2 linked regions of the Homo sapiens genome follow. The protein of the gene in region 1 purifies or fractionates together with the protein of each later gene. This does not show direct contact. Each region holds a gene or a part of one and is shown on either strand. Other genes may lie near its edges.

What was found. The genes of interacting proteins can lie anywhere in the genome.
Region 2: the proteins of TMEM176B (region 1) and LTF purify together in Homo sapiens (affinity purification with mass spectrometry; one large-scale study listed by BioGRID and IntAct). This does not show direct contact.

Annotation. Positions count from the first base shown.
Region 1 is NC_000007.14:150,794,083-150,797,364, reverse strand, and holds part of TMEM176B (transmembrane protein 176B), read left to right. Parts: intron 1-790; coding exon of another isoform or gene 791-795; coding exon 796-999; intron 1,000-3,282. UniProt on the Homo sapiens protein: May play a role in the process of maturation of dendritic cells. Required for the development of cerebellar granule cells.
Region 2 is NC_000003.12:46,451,406-46,454,905, forward strand, and holds part of LTF (lactotransferrin isoform 1 preproprotein), read right to left. Parts: intron 2,956-3,500; coding exon 2,900-2,955; intron 1-2,899. UniProt on the Homo sapiens protein: Transferrins are iron binding transport proteins which can bind two Fe(3+) ions in association with the binding of an anion, usually bicarbonate. Lactoferricin binds to the bacterial surface and is crucial for the bactericidal functions.

The DNA of each region.
Region 1 (3,282 bases):
CTCTCTCTGTTATTTAGGTTGACACTTTTTATGGACTCATGTAGGATTATTCTAAAAACATATGATCGTGTGATCACAGCATCATGCAAATCAGTGTGTATAGTATGCTGCTATTTGTGGGAAAAGGGGGCAGAAATACTTTTTCACACTTTTGTATGCAAAAATGTCATGGTAGGATTTATAAGAGACTGATAATATTACTTTGCATCTGCAAGGCAAATAGGTGGTTGAGGGAAAAAGATGAGCGATAAGGTTTTAAAGGTATATATACCCTTTTGTATCTCTTAACTTTTTTATGTGTAAAATCACTATTGATTTCCAGTGCCATTGATATCTGCACTGGGAAGCCCCTTTGAATTTTGACAAAGACACTGTTTTTTGTTTGTTTGTTTGTTTGTTTTTGTTTTTTTTGAGATGGAGTCTCACTCTGTTGCCCAGGCTGGAGTGCAGTGGCAAGATCTGAGCTCACTGCAACCTCAGCCTCCCAGGTTGAAGTGATTCTCCTGCCTCAGCCTCCTGAGTAGCTGGGACTACAGGTGCACACCACCGTGCGGATTTTTGTATTTTTAGTAGAGAGGGAGTTTTGCCACATTGGCCAGGCTGGTCTTGAACTCCTGACCTCAGGTAATCCACCCACCTCAGCCTCCCAAAGCACTGGGATTACAGGCGTGAGCTATTGTGCCCAGCTGGGATCTTGACAAAGACACTATTTCTCTCCTTTCACCTGTGCTGTGTATTTTTCCCTCGCCTAGTTCCCAGACCTCACTGCTATATGTCTTCTCCCTGGCAGGCAGGATGACGCAAAACACGGTGATTGTGAATGGAGTTGCTATGGCCTCTAGGCCATCCCAGCCCACCCACGTCAACGTCCACATCCACCAGGAGTCAGCTTTGACACAACTGCTGAAAGCTGGAGGTTCTCTGAAGAAGTTTCTTTTTCACCCTGGGGACACTGTGCCTTCCACAGCCAGGATTGGTTATGAGCAGCTGGCTCTAGGGGTAAGACTGGGGTGGTGCGGGGTTGGGGGGCACGTTAACGAGGTGATGAGGTCAATTAAAATATAGAGCCAAATCTTCAAAATTAAAACGTTTTATTTGGGAGGAGAGAATTGCAATTTGGGGCATACACACAGACCAGGTGGTCTCCAGTATGTCTTTAGAACAAAGAGAAGGTTAGAGGCTTATAAAAAGGAGAAATGTTACATATTGCCCTTCATGAAAGATCATAGGTTTTGGGGAGCTGGTGAGCTCTGATGGGTGAGCGATGGCATGAGTAAAACTAATCCTAGAGTTGTAGCAAGGTCAGAAGCTGTAGATAAAGCTGGTTTCAGGTTGCAGCAGGCAGCTTCAGCAGCCTGATTTGTAGAGAATTACATTTTGGGAGCAACATTTTGTGCCCCGAGTGCTTTTTGCCCCTGGCCTCTCGACTCTGTTTTAGTTGAGTGTGACAAGAATGACCCCATTTGTAGGCTCAGCTTTCACAGTGGAAACTCTCCTTCTTCAATAGGATGCAAAAGAGGAAAGTGGGTTGAATTCCCATGAGAGGGACATGAGAAATCACTATTTATATCTCATTCTGTGTAGGAAAAAGTTGTAAGTGTCCCCACAGAAATTTGGATGGAAAGGAAGAATCGACCTCCTCTTTGGCACAGAGGAGTCGGTCCCAGCCAGAGGTAGGGCAACAGGAAGAACAGTCTAGAGGCTGTTAATTCGGTTTTATTGACCCCACATGGACTGAAAGCCTACAGGTGCAAGGCAATGTGTTCAGCACTTCAGGCCAAGCTACAGAGAGAATCCCTGGGCTATATCTAAAAGTACTCAGTGACCATCAGAAGGAACAGCAGCTACACTAATGACTGGAACTAAAGGTAGATCAGGTGAGGGAGAAGCACATCTGACATCCTTGAGGGCAGGAGAACCCTGAATGGAGAAGGAATAGGTATAGACAGAGGTGGAAGATGGACAAAAAAGAATTCCAGGTTAAAGAATGGCAGGAGCAAAGGCAAAGAGGCCAGAAGGCATAGGGCAAGTTCTATAATGGTTAAGAGTAAAGGGAATGGGCTTCATGAATGGGTGATTTGGGCCCATATTGCTGAGAGCCTTGAACGACCAGGTGAGGAGTCTGTCCTGAATCAGCTTTGACAGTGAGAACGCTGTCAATGGATTCTGAGCAGGAACCTGCCTCAGAGTCAGGAGGCATCCAGGTGAGAAGGATCGAGGATCTGCACTCACATAATCATAGCAGAAATGGTGAGGAGACAAAGGAGTCCCTGTCCTTCACAGACCTCCATGGCATGGGAGTGAAGGGGTTTGGGGCATAAGGAAAGAGAGGCATTCACAGCATGCAGAGAGGGTTGAAGTGTGGGTGACCAGGAGATCGGAGCCCTGAAAGTCAGGAGGAGCAGCCATTCGAGAGGTGTGTGTGTGTGTGTGTGTGTGTGTGTGTGTGTGTGTGTGGTAGTAGGGGATTTGGATGTGACAAATCCGAGATGCTGGTAGGATGTGGAGGTGGTGACAGTTGGGTTTTCCAGGAAGAAGAGGAGTTCTCTTCTGAGTCGGAGTTGGGTGTGTGAACGGCTTATTGGGGTATGACACCTATGAAATGAAAAGAGGGGGAGCAGGATTGAGCAGGAGGAACCATCAGGCTGCAATGCAGACTCTGCCAGGCCAGTGGGGGAGCTCCCAGGCAAAGGTTGCCCACTGCAGGAGTTCCACACTGGGTGGAGATGGCCCTTGAGCCACTGTCTTGCTTAATCATTGGCTGGGGGGCCCTCCTCAGTGTGTGTCTTCAGCTTGAAAAATTAGGGTGACCCTGAAGGAGCTGACAACTGCAGGCTGTCAGCAATCAAACAAGCCCTTTCTTGAAGGAGGTCTCAGCGGCACTTCTTTGTGTCTGCCACAGAGCCCTCAAGAGTGTGTGTTTGGATCTGAAGAGAAAGGATAGGCCAGAAGCTCAGGTCAGGCTGGGGGTTTGGATGGGACAATGGGACCTCTGAAGGAGAATGGGGGGGGAAAAGTGGGAATCTTCAGGTGGGATGAGAAAGTGTTGAAGTTGGGAAAAATTGATGAAGGATAAATAGCCAAGCCTATGAGAAGGGTGAGGGGAGACCCAGGCCAGTGCTGCTTCATGGATTTTAAGGGGACAGAATCTTCCAGAATCAGAGCTGCAGAGAGGTCAAGGCAGAGGAAAAGGAGAGGAGAGCCACCTAGGTAGGAGCCAGGCAGCTGGTCCCAGGGCAGCCGGGGCATGTGGACTCACGGGAAGGGGTCTGGTTTCTCATC
Region 2 (3,500 bases), on another chromosome or scaffold:
CCAGTGTATTCCATTAACAAAAGAATGGCTGAACATCAAAAAAACTAAAGTAATCTGCATTTAATGGCAGAAAACCATGAGATCGTCTTCATCTTAATAGATGCAGAACGATTGTTTATGTGTTCAACATCTATTTGTGTGTGGTTTTTTTTTCAGCCTCAGAAAAATAGTAATAGATAGAATCGGTAAAGTTTTTTTGTTTGTTTTGAGACGGAGTCTCACTCTGTTGCCCAGCCTGGAATGCAGTGGTGCGATCTCAGCTCACTGCATCCTCCATCTCCTGGAGTCAAGAGATTCTCTTGCCTCAGCCTCCCAAGTAGCTGGGACCACAAGCGCACGCCACCAGGCCCAGCTAATTTTTGTATTTTTAATAGAGATGGGGTTTCACCATGTTGGCCAGGCTGGTCTCGAACTCCTGACCTCATGTGATCCACCCGCCTCAGTCTCCCAAAGTGCTGGGATTACAGGGGTGAGACACCACGCCTGGCCATAAGTTATTGGCTTGATAAATGCCATTAATCTACAGCAAAAACCTTACTAAAAGAAGAAAATGTAGACATTCACCGCAAAATCAGGAACAAGGCAAGGATGCCCACTGTTACAATGCCAGCACAATTCTAGATATCCAGATCACACAATTTACAAAAGAAATGTGAGATATAAACACTGGAAGGAAAAAGACACACTCTTATTTAAAAAGATGATATCGTCATCTACAAAAAACCAATGAAACCAACAGAAACTAATAAAACTACTCAGAGGAGTAACAAGTTATAAGAGCAACCTACAAAAATCAGATGTTATCCTCATTAACAATAACCAAATAGAAACCAATATGGACTATAAGATGTTACAATAGCAACTAAAACCATTAAGTAGCTAATAATTAGCCTCCCACAAAGACACATCAGACCCACAAAGGAAAAATTTTAGTTCTATCAAAGAAACTAAAAAGAGGTGTGATCAAATGGGGGAGATTTAGCATCACCATGGACTGGACAACTTAATGTTATAAATATGCTGATTTTTCATGGAACAATTTAAATTCAGTACAATTCGAATCAAAATTAAAGTATGATTTTTTCCAGAAATTCAACAAAATAATTCTGAAGTTTTAGCTGAGTATATTTGAAAAGGAATAATAAAGTGAGAGGGGAGAGGGAGCTCTCTCTCATTCTCTCTCTCTTCCTCTCACTGGCTCTCTCTCTTTCTCTCCACCAGATAGTAAGACCCATTGGTAAGCCACAGTAACAAAAGCAGAAAAAATGCAAATACACCAATGAAATAAAATAGCTCAGAAACTGGTCCACTTGGATATATACAAACTTGGTGTAGAATTGGCTTCACATATGGCAGAAAAAATATACTTTTTTTATTGTAAGGTAAATTGCCTCACTGTAAAGGGGATAAAATGCTAAAGCCAAATCTATATCTGACTTTCTAGGTAGAGCACATATAAATAGATGAGGAAGGGGATCTTCAAATCTTATTTTAGGAAATAATTATGATTTGGGTGTGAAGAAGGGCATCTTTGAAATATCTCAAAACTACAAACCAACAAGGTGAGGCTTGTGGATTTGACCTTATCAATATCAAGGATTTTTGATCAACAGAGACTACCGTTGTCAGATTTTTGACTGAGAAGAGGTTTTACTAAAGTTTAAAATCAGCAATAGTTTGATACCTAGATAGAAGGAACTTCTGTCCTTGAATCAAAATCATGCAGAAACAAGGTGTGAAACTCAATTTAAAAAGTAGTCAAATGTCACAAAATAAGAAAGGGAAGCCCAAACGGCTAGCAAATATGTTGAAATGATCAAACTCACCAGCTGTCAGAGAAATGAAAATTAAAAATAAAACGAACTATCTATTGCATTACAACCATCATTCGGACAAAAAGTATGAAAGTCAAAAATACTTCTAACTGAAGTTGTGGGGAAATTAGAACACTTGCAGAGTGTCATTCCAGACAGCAGCTTGGTGATCCTGGGTGCATGTGGGGTCTGTCTCTGGTGGCCCTGGGTGCATGTGGAGGTCTGTTTCTGGTGGCCTCTGATGAATGCGGGGTCTGTCTCTGATGGTCCTAGGTGAATGTGGGTGTTGTCTCTTTCTCTGGTGGTCCTGGGTGGATGTGGGGTGTGTCTCTGATGGTCCTGAGTGAATGTGGGTGTCTGTCACTTTCTCTAGTGGCCCTGGGTGGAATATAGTAGCCCTGTCTCTATTGGTCTTGCATGAAATGTAGTGAGCTTATGTCCACTAGTCCTGGGTGCAGTGTGTTTAGCCTCTACATACTCATCAACTGCTTTATTATAAGTCCAGGAGGGACGCTGTCCAGCACGTAAGTAAGGAACACAGGTGAAGGTATCAGTCGTGTGGCTGCATGTGGTAGAGGAAAAGAGAGCACAACCTCTGTCCATCACTATGGTGACAGAGAAGTAAAAGGTGGATGTATTCCACGGAACACTCCTCAACTGTTAGGACCCCTGAGCTAGACATGTATACAACAATACCGATAAACCTCTAAAACAAAATGCTGAGCAGAAAACCCAAGTAGCAGGATTTCTAATGCTCACTAAAACCTCTATGAACCCAGAAACCGGAAACACAAACCAGCACAATCTGTTCTGCATGAGCACATGTGTCTTGGAGGACTGGAGGACGCATTGCCAAGCACCTAGGCATGGGTGTCTATGAGGGGAAGAGAAAGGCAGTAGGCACAGGAGGTTTGAAGAAAACTGATCATTTAAAATATGAAAGATCATAAAATCAGAGCTGTGCCCTGTAGGAATCTTGAAAATGGTCTGCCATGAACTTAGGAATCTAATTAGCTCAAAGGTCAGAGTCATGATCAAGTAAGATAAAAGGGGTCAGTACCCACGGCTCATTACCCTGCTCTTACCAAACACTGTGCTCTCTCTGATAAAAGCCACGTCTCCAGCCCCGTCTCTCAGACACCTGTGAAAAGAGAAACCATCAGGGGTAAGCACAGGCAGCCCTCCCCAGCCCCTCCCTGTGGAACAGTAGCCCTGGCACTCAGCATCTATGGGTTTCTACTCCCTGCAGGGCAGGGCTCTGAAGCTTTGGGGCATCCCAGCTGGGAAGGTAGGGGCCCCCTCCAGGTAGATACTGAAGAATGACTCAGGTGCTAGCCAGAGGCCCCCATCTTCTGCTTTGAGGGCTAAGAGGACAAAACTTTTTTCTATATAAAGGAGAGTTTTGAAGCCTCTACCCAAGAGGGTAAAGCCTTAGCATCACTGTTCATGTGGCTGTTTTCCTCAGGACTGAGTGTGCAGGTGTGCCCTGGCCAGTGGGGAAGTGTGGAGGCCTCCCTCTGCAAAAATACGCTAGTGCCAGCAGACAGAATGGGAAAAGGGGGAGCTCAGCCTCCGCGTGGGGGCAGAGAGGATGGGGGCGAATCAGGCATTGCTCACTGTCCTTCAGCCACGGGGAGAGGCCCAGGTGGGCAGAAGGACATCAGCCTGGACACTGCAGCGGTCCTG